Linked DNA regions of Homo sapiens: all the other regions are linked to region 3. The links come from fine-mapping of genetic effects on gene expression. A gene starts in region 3. Each other region holds a variant in brackets. All regions are shown on one strand. Distances are from middle to middle.

Region 1 (5,250 bases), 260 kb before region 3:
GACTATTTGCCTTTCTTACTGTCTCTCTCACGAGCACTATATTTGGAGTTTTCCAGAGGTTATATGATGTAAGAGATTGCCACAAATGTAGAAGAAAACATGAGAATCCTGCAGTCATCTGTTAAGCCAATTATTAAAGAGACACTGCTAACTGAAAAAAAAAAAACTACTCTTTGGGAAAATACAGCTATTTTTCACTTTAAAAATGTTTTTATGTTGACAAATAATGGGTTCATTATTGTTCTTCTAAAGGAAACAACAAATAAAGTGTTCTTAATTTTCATTTGCAATATGGTAGCGATAGATATAAATCATAAAGAAAAAACTCTTTGGTTTTTCAATAAGTTTTAAAGTGTAAAGATTGGTCAGAAACCCAAAAGTTTTCTAATGGCCACTAGGCTTATATACTATGTCTTTCCATGATAGCAACTAGTCATAGGGTTTTTTTGTGTGTTAAGATTAAATGAGGCCAGGCGTGGTGGTTCATGCCTGTAATCCCAACACTTTGAGAGGCCGAAGTGGGTGGATCACCTGAGGTAAGGAGTTCGAGACCATCCTAGCCTACATGGTAAAACCTCATCCCTACTAAAAATACAAAAATTATCTGGGCATGTTGGTGTGCACCTATAATCCCAGCTACTCGGGAGGCTGAGGCAGGAGAATTGCTTGAACCTGGGAGGCAGAGGTTGCAGTGAGCCCAGATTGCACCATTGCACTCTAGCCTGGGTGACAGAGTGAGACTCCATCTCAAAAACAAAACAAAACAAAAAACAAAACAAACAAACAAAAAACTCTTTGGGTTTTCAATAAGTTTGAAAGTGAAAAGATTGGTCAGAAACCCAAAAGTGTTCAAATGGCTGCTAGGCTTATATACTACACCTTTCCATGATAGCATCTGGTCATAGGGTTTTTTGTGTGTAAAGATTAAATGAGATAACCCATGTGAAAAGCTGAACATGGCCCCTGGCACATGGACAGTGTCAACATACGTTAGCTATTATTGTCATAGTTATTAGAGATGAAATAACCTGCCTGAGGCCACACTGTGACAAACTAGGGACATAAAAAAGTTGAAATTCTCTGCAATAATATAATAAGCTGCATTTAATAATGATTTAACAAACTAGATGATCAAATTCCCTTCCAGTGAGTAATGTTAAGTACCACAAAGAAGAGAGCTGTCCATAACTAACGCCATTGAAGAGAAAGATGATGGGTCATAGAGACTCCAGGCAGATGAACAAAGACCTGGATTCCAGGTGTGATACTTACAGTACCTAAATGTGTTACCACAGGCAAATCATTTGAAATCTCTGAATTATTGTGTTCATATGTATAAAATGTAAAAAATTATGTATCTCTCTCATCTACATTACAAGTATGAAATAATTTATGTGAAAGTGCTCTGAAGTATAAAATAGGGAAAGTGTGTTCTGCTCCAATTCTCATACCCAAATAAATCCCAGAGGGATTAAAATGTTACTGTAAAAAACACAAGCAAAAATTACTAGAAAGATATATAGGCCGGGCGCGGTGGCTCACGCCTGTAATCCCAGCACTTTAGGAGGCCGAGGAGTGCAGATCACGAGGTCAGGAGATTGAGATCATCCTAGCTAACATGGTGAAATCCTGTCTCTACTAAAAATACAAAAATTAGCTGGGCATGGTGGCACATGCCTGTAATCCCAGCTACTCGGGAGGCTGAGGCAGGAGAATCGCTTGAACCGGGAAGTCGGAGGTTGCAGTGAGCCAAGATCATGCCACTGCACTCCAGCCTGGGTGACAGAGTGAGACTCTGTCAAAAAAAAAATAATTATATATATATATATATATATATATATATATAGACATTTTAATATGAGAAAATTTATACAATTCTGGGATGAGGAGAATTTGTCAATGTGATGACAAAGAGAAAACATTTTACAAAAGTACTGAAGTTACCTCAAAAAAAGAGAAAATAGACTGAGCATGGTGGCTCATGCCTTCAATCTCAGCACCTTGGGAGGCCAAGTCAAGAGGATGACTTGAGCCCAGGAATTCAAGATCAGCCTGGGCAACATGGCAAGATCCTGTCTCTCCAAAAAAAATACAAAAATTAGCTCTGGGCGTAGTGGTGGGTGCCTGTGATCCCAGCTACTTAGGAGGCTGAGGTGGGAGGATCGCTCGAGCCCAGGAGTTCTAGGCTGCAGAGAGCTGTGTTTGTATCATTGCACTCCAACCTAAGCAGCAGGGCAAGACCCTATCTCAAAAAAAAAAAAAAAAAATGTTTGGCAGGGAGGAGAAAATCGCAGTGAATCTTTGTGAACTTGAGTTATACAATGGCCTCTTAGATATGACACCAAAAGCCAAAAGCACATGTGGAAAAAAGAAAAATTGGACCTTACCAAAATGACAAACTTTGTGCTTCAAAAGGTACCATGAAGAAAGTGAAAAACACAACTAAAACATGGAAGAAAACATTTGCAAATTATAAGTTTGATAAGTCTGGTGTCCAGAATATATAAAGAACTTTTAAAACTTGACAATAAAAAGACAAATAACCCACTTAGAAATGGGCAAAGGGCTTGAATAGACATTAATCCAAATAAGGTGTACCGATGGTCAATATGTGCTCCCAAAAATATGTTCAGCCTTATTAGTCATCAGGGAAATGCAAATAAAAACCACAATGAAATACCAATTCACACCCACTGGCATAGCTAAAATTAAAAAGCCAACTAATAACAGGTGTTAGCAAAAATGTAGAGAAATTGGAGCCCTTATCAACGCTGGTGGAATTGTAAAATAGCGCAGCCACTTTGGAAAACAGTTTGAACATTCTCAAAATGTT[A/G]AAACAAAGTTACCACATGATCCAGCAATTCTGCTCCTAGATATATACCTAAGAGAACTGAAATCGTATGTTCAAACAAAAACCTTTATTAAAACATTCATAGTAGGCCAGGCATGGTGGATCATGCCTGTAATCCCATCACTTTGGGAGGCTGAGGCAGGTGGATCACCTGAGGTCAGGAGTTCAAGACCAGCCTGGCCAACATGGCAAAACCCCATCTCTACTAAAAGTACAAAAAATTAGCCAGGCGTGGTGATGTGCACCTGTAATCCCAGCTACTTGGGAGGCTGAGGCAGGAGAACTGCTTGAACCTGGGAGTTGGAGGCTGCAGTGAGCCAAGATTGTGCCACTGGTACTCCAGCCTAGGCAACAGAGCAAGACTTTGTCTCAAAAAAAAAAAAAAAGAAAAAGAAAAAAAGAAAAGAAAACATTCAGAACAGCATTATTCACAATAGCCATAAGGTAGAAAAGCCCACACATCCATCTACTGATGAATGCATAAACAAAATATACATCTATACTGTAGAATATTATTTGACAATAAAAAAGACTAAAGTACTTATACATGTTGCAACATGGGTGAAACTTGAAAACATTATGCGAAGTGAAAGATGCCAGTCACAAAAGGCCACATTTTGTAGGATTCCTTTTATATAAAATGTCCAGAATAGGCAAATCCATAAAGACAGAAAGTAGATTAATGCTTCCAGAGGGTACATGGAAGGAGAAACAGAGTTTCTCTCCTCTGCTAAGCAGAGGAGTTTCATTTGGTGTGATGAAAAAGTTCTAAAATTAGATAGTAATGGCTGCACAACTCTGTGAATATACCAAAAACCACAGAAATGGAATGTAAATTATAACCCAATAAAGCTGCTGTAAAAAATGTACTGGAGTTTGTCCCTGGAAAAACATAGCTTCAGAAAGGCAGAAGTCATTTTAAAAGTAAAATATTTTTTAAATGGTGGGAAACAAATTGTGTAATTGACCTTAATGTAGTGTTAATGTCTTCAATATATAAAGCACATTTATAAGCCAATAAGAATGTATTAGTCAGTTCTCATGTGCGAATAAAGACATACCTGAGCCTGGGTAATTTATGAAGGAAAGAGGTTTAATAGGCTCACAGTTCCACATGTCTGGGGAGGCCTCACAATCGTGGTGGAAGGCAAAGGAGAAGAAAGTCATGGCTTACATAGCAGCAGGCAAGAGATCTTGTATGGGGAACTCCCATTTATAAAATCATCAGATCTTATAAGAGTTATTCACTACCATGAGAACAGTATGGGGGAAACCGCCCCCATGATTCAATTATCTCCATCTCCACCTTGCCCCACGATTGACACATGGGGATTATTACAGTTGAATGTGAGATTTGGGTGGGGACACAGCCAGACCAAATCAAAGAGAAAAAGGTAACATCTGAAATGAAAATGGGCTGAAGATATTAATATAAAGTTCATAAAAGAGGAAATATGAATGATATAAACACATTAAAATGCTCATCTTGACTTATAATAAAAGGACAAATTAAAGTGACATGTTTTTTGCTTACCAGATTGACCAAGATTACAAATACTAGTGACCCTGTAGGCTGGTACATGGGGCTGGATGTATTCTCATGCAATGCAATTGAGAGTTTACACTGATATAGTTGTCTGAAGGCCAATTTAGCCATATATTTAGCCATACAATTTAGCCAAACACTCATACATTTTGATCTTATAGTTCTATAATTTCATGCTAAGGAAATACTTGGGTGTATTAGCAAAGGTAAATGTGTAAAAATATTTGTCAAAGTAAATGATAGAAAAATACTAGAAAAATCCTACATGTTAAATAATTGGAATAGGGATATATAGTTTTACCTATACAGTGAAATTCTTAGCATCCAGTTAGAATAAAGATATTACTCATATTTATTGATATAGAGGTGTGGTCATAGTATATTGTTAGCCAAGAAAAGTAGGTACAAAATTATATACAATCTGATATTAAGTTTGTAATATATATTTTTATTGATATTAGATATGTATGTATAGTATAATTGTGTATTTATAAATATATTACTGTAAATTATATATTCATTATAGTCTTACAATTATATTTATATTCTAACATTTATATTATTATTTATAGTTATATGTTATATATTTATATGTATGTGGAGAAAAGTCTTAAAGGATTTTCATAAAAATATTAACAGTTGTCTTTGAATGATAAGATTTGGGGTGAGGCCAGGCACAGTAGCTCACGTCCGTAATTACAGAACTTTTGGAAGCCAAGTGAGAGGATCGCTTGAACCCGGGAGTTCAGGACCAGCCAGGGCAGCATAGTGAGGTCTTGACTCTACTAAAAAATAAAAAAATAAAAAATAGGTGGCATGGTGGCACACACCTGCAGTCCCAGCTACATGGGAG
Region 2 (5,212 bases), 73 kb before region 3:
AGGGTAACTTTGAGTCAGTGGACTGGGAGAGGCAGACCCACCCTCAGTCTGGGTGGGCACCATCTAATCAGCTGCCAGCATGGCTAGAATAAAAGCGGGCAGAGGAACATGAAAGGCCTAGACTGCCTGAATCTTCTGGCCTCTGTCTTTCTCCCGTGCCAGATGCCTCCTGCCCTCGAACATCAGACTCCAAGTTCTTCAGCTTTTGAACTCTTGGACTTACACCAGTGATTTGCCAGGGCTCTCGGGCCTGCAGCAACAGACTGAAGGCTGCTCTGTCGGCTTCCCTACTTCTGAGGTTGGGACTTGGACTGGCTTCCTGGCTCCTCAGCTTGCAGACCTATTACGGCCCATGATGGGACTTCGCCTTGTGATCGTGTGAGTCAACTCCCCTTCATATATTTATCGATCCTATTAGTTCTGTCCCTCTAAAGAACCCTGACTAATCCAGGGGGCTGCCGGAATAGATGAGTGTGGGCTGCCCCATGGTAGTAGCAGCAGAATGGTGAGAAGCGGCTGTTCTGAGGGTCTATTGGAAGGTAGTGCCCTTAGGCCTGTGCCGAGGTTGATGTTGGCAAGCTCGCCTATGTTGTCGGCGCACAGTTGCAACTTGATATTCGTTGGACAGATAACGGCTGATATGACTCCCTCAGATAACAGATAATATATACCTGACAATACAAGAAATATGAAAGTACATGAATAGGCCAAGCGTGGTGGCTCACGCCTGTAATCCTAGCGCTTTGGGAGGCTGAGACGGGTGGATTACTTGAGGTCAGGATTTCAAGACCAGCTTGGCAAGTATGGTGAAACCCTATCTCTACTAAAAATATAAAAACTAGCCAGATGTGGTGGCACATGCCCGTAATCCCAGCTACTCAGGAGGCTGAGGCTAGAGAATCGTTTGACCCCAGGAGGTGGAGACTGCAGTGAGCCAAGATTGCGCCATTGCATTCCAGCCTGAGCAAAAGGGTGAGACTCTGTCTCAAAAATAAATAAATAAATAAAAAATAAAGTACATGAATAACTTAGAAATAAAGTCCTCAAATCACCTGAGCAAAGAATTGTTTTTATACAGGTAACTCCAGAAATGAACAAATTTCTGCCTGACCATATGTTTTCTTTCTCCCCTCCCTTTCTTCCTAACACCACAGTGGGTTCATTCAACCAGATGTTCCTAATTATAAAAGTTGCTCTTTAATGAGTTCCTCTATCCCCAACAGCTTGAGGAAAATTGCACAACAGAACTTTCCACACATTCAGCCTAAAGTGGCATTTTCAAAGCATGAGAAGAAACATATCAAGTTTTGCTCTCCAATCTGTGGAATAAATGAAAACAAGATCTAAATCAAAGGTCTAAAGATCAGGGACTGAGCAGGTCTTGTGTGATGGACACTGAGGATAAGACCAGCCCCTGTCTTCCAGAGGCTTCCAAGCTAGAGCAGAAATGCAGGTTACAGGCCATTATCATGCATGGGTCGAGTCTCACAAGAGTTTAAGCATGTGGTGGATCTAGAAGAATCATTTAAATAAATGTGAAGTTGTTCAAAAACAATTTTTCTTTCTCTGAGTTAAGGTTTGTTTGCTTTGAGACCGAGTGTCGCACTGTCACCCCGGCTGAAGTGCAGTGGCACAATCTCAGCTTACTGCAACCTCCGCTTCCGGGGTTCAAGTGATTCTCCCGCCTCAGCCTTCTGAGTAGCTGGGATTGCAGGCACCCGTCATCATGCCCAGCTAATTTTTGTATTTTTGCAGAGACGGGGTTTCAACATGTTGGCCAGGCTGGTCTTGAACTCCTGACCTCAGGTGATCTGCCCACCTCGGCCTTCCAAAGTGCTGGGATTACAGGCGTGAAGCACCGTGCCTGGTCGAGTTAAGGTATTTTGAATTCAACAAATTATGCAAGCCTGCAAAACTTAATATCACAGAATTAACCAAAGAAATCTACAGCTATTAAAAAATCTGGTTGTTTGCTATTATCTTGCCAAAACTCAATATCACATTTATTTAATAAATGAATGATACCTGGAGTTTTGAAATACTAAAATCATGTGATTGTTTTGTAACTTTTATTAGTTGTGTTTGATTTTCATGGTAGAGTCTGCAAAGCTATTGGCTATTCTCAATATTATAGGAAGAGATAATATCCCTATTAGGAGGATTTAAGTAACAAAGTCCTTTAAGAGCATCATAGGTTTAACAGCCATACTCTAGAAGACTGAGTCCCAAGTTCTTTCAAATTTATTAGCTCAATTTTGGGACACCCCTCCATTCCTTGCTGTGCATTAATGTTAATCTATTTTGGATAAAAATTAGGCCGGGGTGGTGGCTCATGCCTGTAATCCCAGCACTTTGGGAGGCCAAGGCGGGCAGATCACTTGAGGTTAGATCACAAGACCAGCCTGGCCAACATGGTGAAACTTTGTCTCTACTAAAAATATAAAAATTAGCCAGGCATGGTGGCATGCGCCTGTAGTCCCAGCTACTCAGGAGGCTGAGGTAGGAGAATCACTTAAACC[C/T]GGGAGGCAGAATTTGAAGTGAGCTGAGATCACGCCACTGCTCTCCAGCCTGGGTGACAGTCAGACTTCATCTCAAAAAATAAAAAATAAAATGTACTTTCTAGAAAGAATTAAGACACATGCACACGTATGTTTATTGCAGCACTGTTCACAGTAGCAAAGACTTGGAACCAACCCAAATGCTCATCAATGGTAGACTGAATAAAGAAAATGTGGGATATATACACAATGGAATACTATGCAACCATAAAAAAGGATGAGTTCATGTCCTTTGCAGGGACATGGATGAAGCTAGAAACCATCATTCTCAGCAAACTAATGCAGGAACAGCAAACTAAACACTGCATGTTCTCACTCATAAGTGGGAGTTGAACAATGAGAACACATGGACACAGGGAGGGGAACATCACACACTGGGGCCTGTCGGGGAGTGGGGGGCTAGGGAAGGGATAGCATTAGGAGAAATAACTCATGTAGATGATGGGTTGATGGGTACAGCAAACCACCATGGCACGTGTATACCTATGTAACAGGCCTGCATGTTCTGCACATGTATCCCAGAACTTAAAGCATAATTTTTTTAAAAAATTTCAAAATAAAGAAAATACGGTATCATAAAACACTAACTAAGAATCACTGGTCTTTAGAGAATATAGGAAGTAAATAATTGGTTTGCAATACGGGGTTACTAGAAAAGGAGGTTGGACTTTGGCCTCAGAATTTCCAGTTTTCTACTTGGGAAATTGATATTATTTTCACTGTAAAGTAACTGCCATTCCATAAATTCAGACAATAAGAGATACCTTTTTATCGCCTATCCAAAAACACAAATTCAAATCTTGGCAATAGTGTGAGGATATTATCAATAACAATAAAACACTTAATAACATGCATATTCTGACCTAGCAATTCCCACTTTTTAAGACTTTATCCTCAGAAAATAATTGGAAAAGTGGGCAAGATAAACATATAAGCATGCTGAGCTTGTATATTTTTAAATGTAAAAATTTGAAAAATATTTAGTGTTTTAATTACAATGATAATCTAAACATATATAATCTAATTTTATGAGATTGGTAAAATGCATGATGGCTTAGCCACATAGGACAATGGGATACTGCTATACATGCTAGTATTATGCTGTAAGACACACACACACAAATCCCTAGCCACTCTCCCATCCCTGACACACACACCACACACCCCTACCACAGTGGGCTAAAACAATGATTTATTTCTCGATCATGCAAAGTCCACTGCAGTCCTAGAGCGGTTGTGATCTGTAGAATGGCTTAGCGTCACACTTCACCAACACATGCTTCATGAGGGGCATGGAAGAAAGTGTCATGGTACCAGAGGCTCACCTGCAGTAAAGAGCTTCTGCCCACGTTTCATTTGCTAAAGCAAGTTACAAGGGCCTTTCTTGACCTCAAATGGAGACGTGGGATCCCAACATGTGTCCAGATGATGGCAGGAGCAAATGTCTACTGCAACTACACAGCCATAAAAAATACTAACATGGAGTTCTACTTTTTGACACGGGCAAACTATCCATAATGTATCAAGTGGGAAAACAAGTATGGTCCCATTAAAACAATGTATCTCTAAGTGTGTGTTACATATGTAAGGAGACATTTATAAAAACATTGGAAAGATATACAGGATAAGTTTAATGGTGTTTTCTCCAGGTGGTGGGATGAGATGATTTTAAAAACAACTTGTTTTATACTTTTTGGTTCTATCTTTTTCTTTTCCTTTTTTATTATTATTATTTTATTGAGATGGAGTCACGCTCTTGTTGCCCAGGCTAGAGTGCAGTGGCACGATCTCAGCTCACTGCAACCTCCGCCTCCCGAGTTCAAGCGATTCTCCTGCCTCGCCTCCTGAGTAGCTGGGATTACAGGCGCCTGCTACCATGCCTGGCTAATTTTTTGTATTTTTAGTAGAGACAGGGTTTCACCATCTTGGCCAGGCTGGTCTGGAACTCCTGACCTCGTGATCCACCTCAGCCTCCGAAAGTGCTGGGATTACAAACGTGAGCCACCGCGCCCAGCTTCCTTTTCTTTTTATTATAATAAGATAATATTTTGATGATGAGAGAAAAGAAAGCCATATTTATTTTGAAAAACATACTATTCACTGCCTTTCTGGTTTCTAAATCAATCTCTGGTTTAGTTGAGGTATCAGTTCTTCTGGGTCTGAACCACACGTGTTCACTCACAAAACTGAGCTGCTGAGGAGAAGTAGAGCTTGATCTTGTTATCACTAGATAGCTCTGTGTAGTCAGAGCGCCTAAATATCCTGCACTATGCTGACTGCTACCTCAAGCGGCAGAGACAGTAATACCCACCACCCTTACAGACAGCACAAATGACATGCTAGCACATTCAGGCCAGAGGCAGGAAGAAGGCATGTGTTTTCAAGACAGAAAGGCAGACTTAATAACACACATTCTCTTGGTTTTCTCATCTGTAAAATGGGAGGAATGATGCCTTGCCCAAGTGTTGCCAGGATTGAGTAAGATAATGTAGTGAAAGCACCCAGCACACAGAGGGTGCTGAATAAATGGTTGCTACTGTTATTGCCCTACGTCCAGGCTGACTACAACAAAAGTGATATTAGGCAAACACAGTAACAAGCAAGGAATGTTTTATTGTGTACATTTTCTCAAAAAAAAAAACCCACAAAAACAG
Region 3 (5,250 bases):
ACTCCCCTCCTTGTTGGAAGTCAGCTACAGGTGAACCAGCAGGGAGAGGCCACTGCCTGCTCACAATCAGCTCATTATCTAATTGAGGAAAAAGGCACAAGCTCACTCAAAAGCAAAATCCAAAGGACCAACAGGAGTTGGGGGCTTCAGGCTTTTTCTTCCCATTCAGGATAGGGTCAATGTCACTTCAAAAGGTATAATTACAAAAGGCTAGAGACCACGCCTTCAGCTTTAAGAGAATAGCAGTACCTTCCATCCTCCAGAAAGCTTTTGGACTTGTGGACTATCCCTATTTAAGACGGCTCATTGCATCAAGGAAACACAGTTTCATTCAATAAACATCAGTCATTTCCTTCAAATTCCCACCGGAAAGCTACTGACATTGTAAACCTTTAGGATTTGAAAGACGCTAAAGTTTAAAGTCGAATCATAAATACTGTTCCAATCCAATCACTCAGGCCCAGAGCTGGTGGGAGTTCTGGATTGCATTTCCGGCTTCACCAGTATCTCTGTAACTTAGCAGCAAGCTACACCTCCACCAGCCTCGGCTTCCTCTTAGGAGAAATGAGAAAACTGGACCCAATCAGTGTTTCCCAAAAGCATGGTGGGCGTCCAATGCAAGATGTCACAGTGCAAGAGAGGACTCTGTGTGCATGCCAATTAACATGTTTTAGTTATTAGTTTACTCTGTCTGGTGAGTAATGTTAGTTTTCCTAATAAATAAGATTTCCTTTTAAAATAAATGCATCCAAATATTTTTAAAAATGAGTCACTTTCACAAAAACCTATTTAGTAAATAAGAGTTCAGGTGATTCTAGCAGCCGTGGCAAAAATAACTGATCTAGAGGCCTGGCGTGGCGTGAAATCCCTGAGTACAGGGGGAGGAAGAGAGCGAAGGCGGCTGGAGTTCCTCGCAAAGAAGCAAGCCCCGGGCACCAGGGTCCGCAGTGACCAGCCGCCGGTCCTCCACGCTTCCAGAGGAGACGATTTGGAACTGACCCGGGAGGGCCAAGAAACACCTTCCGAGTACCAGGCTAAACCCCGCCAGGGAGAGAGACCGGGACGAAGGTCCCAGGCTAGTGCGACACCGCAGGTCGGGGTTCCCTGGTTGGAGGAGCGCGGTGGGCTGGGAGGGGCGCGTTGGTGCGCACTGGAACAGGGGTCCCCGGCTTGAGCAGCGCGGTGAGACAGAGTTCCCGCGCTGGAGGGGCGCGGTGAGACAGAGGTCCTGGGCTGGAGAGGTGCGTTGGGGCGCACTGGAACCGGGGTCCCGGGCTTGAGTGGCGCGGTGGGACAGAGTTCCCGGGCTGGAGGGGCGCAGTGGGACAGAAGATCCGGGCTAGAGGGGCGCGGTGGGACGGAGCTCCCGGGATGGACGGGCGCAGTGGGACAAGGGTCCCGGACTGGAGGGGCGCGTTGGGGAGCATTGGAACAGGGGTCCTGAGCAGGAGGGGCGAGGTGGGCTGGGAGGGGCGCGGTAGGGCGCACTGGAACAGGGGTCCTGGGCTGGAAAGACACGTTGGAACAAGGGTCCCGGGCTTGGGCGGCGCGGTGAGACGGAGTTCCCGGGCTGGAGGGGCGCGGTGGGACAGGGGATCCGGGCTGGAGGGGCGCGGCGAGACCGGGGTCCCAGGCTGGAAAGGTGCAAGTCGAGGCTGGAGGACCGGCGGGAGGGAACCGGGAACCCGGCGGAGCTAAGGGGCGCAGAGTGGGGGTGGGGCCGTGCTGCCGGGGGAGCCCCCTCACGCAGGAAGGACCGGGGCCGCGGACCCCACCGCCCCCACACCCCGTCGTCGCGGAGTTCGGGCCGCCCCGGCTGCGCCCGGGCCCTACCTGTCCTCGCTGGCCGTGATCACGCCGTCCTCCTTGGGGATGAGCAGCGCGGCCGTGACGGCGTCCTGGTGCCCCTCGATCTTGCTCAGCAGCACCGGGCGGCTGCTCTGCGGCCTGGAGTGGATTTCGGCCGCCATGTTCGCGCGGCGACTGCTGCGGCCTCCTCGGCAGGCAGCCCATCAGCTGACGCCTGGGCGGGCGGGGGACGCGCCGGTTTCCCTTCGGCTGCTGGGGCCTCTTGGGCGCCGCGCCGCCGTAAGCCCCCGAGTGCTGCCGCCGCACCGCCCGTATTGCCTGGGGATGCCGCGCAAGCTGAAAGTCTGTGGCTGGGAGAGGATGCCACGGGGCGCCTGCGGAGAAATGGGGAAAGTAAGGAAGGTTTAAAAGTAAAGCCATTCACCCAGGAATAAATTGAGCACCTGGAGGGGACAAGGAATTGTCCCCCAAACCAGAGATTTCAGAAATTACAATACTACATTTCATCCATTTGAAGAAGCCATTGTTTGAAAGGCACACACTTTCAGAAATGTTAAAATGTGAAAAAATATAGTGCATCTTAGAATCTTTGAACTACAATAGATAGCACTGAGTGGTGACCATATACCAGGCATTAACTCAGTGTCTTTGCATCTCATTTAATACTGATAATTTTAAGAGATGAAATAGATGCTCTTGTATTCCCATTTTAGAGATGAGAAAACAACCAGAGAAGTTTGATCACTACCTTAAGGTTGCACAGCTATGAGAGGGAGAAAAGCAGCCCTTGATCTCCAGGAGCTGCCTGGTACTATCAGCTGAGCTTTGGTGTTGCTAGGAAGTGTTTGCTTCCTGTGGAACATAAACATCAGACGAGGCCACTCCATAATCACATCTAAACACGGCCAAAATATGAGCGATGTACAAGCCACAGAAATTACCAAACATCCCCCTATCCTGGCTAATATGAGTGACTCTTATTTCTTTATTAATTATAATGTTAACCGCTATCTAGTCTTCCTCCATTTAGATAAGATTTATTAAGATATGCAACCTTAGAATTATACGCATTTCCTGACAACATCCAGTCCACAGGAGAGCCTCTCTTCCTTAAGCTCTCCCAGGTCACCTAACACAAACACAAATCCTATAATAAAACTGTCCGAACATCCCTTTACCCAGACACCTCACCATTCCCAATGGTGTGTCTTCTCCCTCCAACAAGCAATCAACCCCATTTGTTCCTGGTGGTTTTTGGCTAGAGGTCATTGACAACCAGTAAGTTCAAGAGCCAAAATTTGGACTCAGGAAGTCAATGACTCCAAACTTCTGCCCCACTATATTATTCTGACACCTGAATTGCAGAATTGCATTAGAACCGTACTATCCACATGACTATAGAGCACTTGAAATGTGGCTTGTCCAAACTGAGATGTAGTACAAGTGCAAAATACTACAAGATTTTATAGACTTAGCACAAAACAAAAAAGATGTAATATAGTTCATCAATAATTGTTACAATGATTACATGTTGAAATGATACTATTTTGGATATATTGAGTTAGATACTATTAAAATTAATATGACCTGCTTATTTTTTTAAGGTAGCTAATAAAAACTTTAAATTATGGATGTGAATCAGATGGTACTTCTATGTACAGTGATTTACTAGAACTTTCTTTTTGTTTTTGTTTTGTTTTGTTTTAGTTTTTTGAGACGAACTCACTCCGTCACCCAGGCTGGAGTGCAGTGGTGCGATCTCGGTTTACGGCAACCTCCGCCTCCCAGGTTAAAGGGATTCACCTGTCTCAGCTTCCCGAGTAGCTGGGATTACAAGCACCTACCACCATGCCTGGCTAATTTTGTATTTTTACTAGAGACAGGGTTTCACCATGTTGACCAGGCTGGTCTCAAACTTCTGCCCTCAAATCATCTGCCCACCTCAGCCTCCCAAAATGCTGGGATTACGGGCAGGAGCCACCATTGTACTAATACTTTCTCATGATGAAGTTATTAACAAACATTCATGAATTTATTTATTCCTATATTCAACAGACATATATCGCACACTTACTATATGCTGTTGCTGATGAGATTAATAAGACATGGTTTTTGTGAGGCTGTACAGTGTAATGACTAGACACGCTACTGAACAACTTTGTTTAATCAACCAACATCTCCCAAGTGCCTGCTGTGAGCCAGGTGCCATTCTAAATGCAGCAGTGCTCAAGAGAGACAAAAATCCCTCTGCTGTTAGAACTTACATCCCAGTGAAGGAAACAGATAGTAAACTAAATTATATAATATATTAGAAGATGTTCAATGCTATTAAATGCTATGGAGAAAATAAAGCAGGGAAGGGTGATAGGGACTCTAGGGGATGTTGCGATTTTAAATAGATGGTGTGATAGATTCAGGAATACACTGCACAGATCTGCTTTCAGGGAAGAACAGTGGTCAGCAGAGAGCCTCTAGCCTTCAGCTCCTTCAGGGACTGCCCCAGCTGCTGAGAACCACTGGGTCTCAGTTGTTCCCTTCACAGGGAAGCCCACATTCAGTAACTGAACAAGATAGGAGGATAAAGGCCTGACCATCAAGACAGACCGATGAGCAACACTTGCTCTAGAACTCTCTCCTAGATTGGACAAGGCTTTGTAAGGCGTGTACTGCAGCTGACTTCTCCTGCCTAATCCTGGTACCTCCCCCTCCCTTCACAGGCATTGATTCCTAATAAACACCCTCTGAGCCAACCTCTATCACCGTATCTGCTGCTGGAGAATGCAACCTGAGACAAGTAAAAGCCTCATTGTAAAGTTACATTTTGAGCCAAGAAGGAGAGGAGGGAGTAAGCCATGTGGAAATGTGGGCCAAATACTTTTCTGGAAAAGAAAAGAGCACGTGTTAAGGCATTGAGGTGAGCACATGCCAGGGGTTTTGTAGAGACAGCCAGGCACCCCGTGAGGCTGGAGCAGAGTGAGTGAGGGAGTGCTCAGAGAAAAACAGCACAGACAGGTCACCAGACAGACCATGTTGAGCCCAGAGACCATTGATAAGGGCTTTGGTTTTTACTTCAAATGAGATAGGAAGCCATTGGAGAGTTTCGAACAGAAGGCTGGTTTAATCTGCCTTCAAGTTTTTAAATTTGTATTCATTTATTTTTCGAGACGAAGTCTCACTCTGTCGTCCAGGCTGGAGTGCAGTGGTGCGATCCTGGCTCACTGCAACCTCCACCTCCTGGGTTCAAGTGATTCTCGTGCCTCAGCTTCTCAAGTAGCTGGGACTACAGGCACGTGCCACCACACCCAGCTAATTTTTGTACTTTTAGTAGAGAGGGTGTCACCATGTTGGCCAAGCTGGTTTCGAACTCCCAACCCCAGGTGATCCACCCACTTTGGCCTCCCAAAGTGCTGGGATTATTATAGGCATGAGCCACTGCGCCTG

Which allele goes with the higher level. Positions count from the first base shown, and alleles are read on the strand shown. Sizes are in standard deviations (SD) of each study's normalised expression.
For the expression in nucleus accumbens of the gene that starts at base 2,021 in region 3, A is the high allele of the variant in region 1 and G is the other (large effect, 0.79 SD a copy in GTEx).
In carriers of allele T in region 2, the expression in monocytes after Pam3CSK4 of the gene that starts at base 2,021 in region 3 tends to be lower than with C alone (large effect, 0.77 SD a copy in Quach 2016).

The links.
Region 1: its variant is fine-mapped to the expression of WDFY1 in nucleus accumbens (GTEx, PIP 0.99).
Region 2: its variant is fine-mapped to the expression of WDFY1 in monocytes after Pam3CSK4 (Quach 2016, PIP 0.95).

The regions. Positions count from the first base shown.
Region 1 is chr2:223,678,666-223,683,915 of GRCh38, forward strand. No RefSeq gene overlaps it. Among named protein-coding and RNA genes, the nearest start is that of SCG2, 79 kb to the left of the region's middle. The variant A/G (reference allele first, on the strand shown) is at 2,834.
Region 2 is chr2:223,870,197-223,875,408 of GRCh38, forward strand. WDFY1 (WD repeat and FYVE domain containing 1) reads right to left here. Exons shown (of 12, transcript NM_020830.5): 12 at 5,152-5,212. Among named protein-coding and RNA genes, the nearest start is that of AP1S3, 35 kb to the left of the region's middle. The variant C/T (reference allele first, on the strand shown) is at 2,520.
Region 3 is chr2:223,943,315-223,948,564 of GRCh38, forward strand. It overlaps WDFY1 (WD repeat and FYVE domain containing 1), which reads right to left and starts at 2,021. Exons shown (of 12, transcript NM_020830.5): 1 at 1,834-2,021. The coding sequence starts at 1,970. LOC124907989 (a long non-coding RNA gene) reads left to right here. Exons shown (of 2, transcript XR_007088100.1): 1 at 1-1,093; 2 at 4,527-5,250. RefSeq lists enhancers at 833-952, 963-1,022 and a silencer at 1,593-1,772.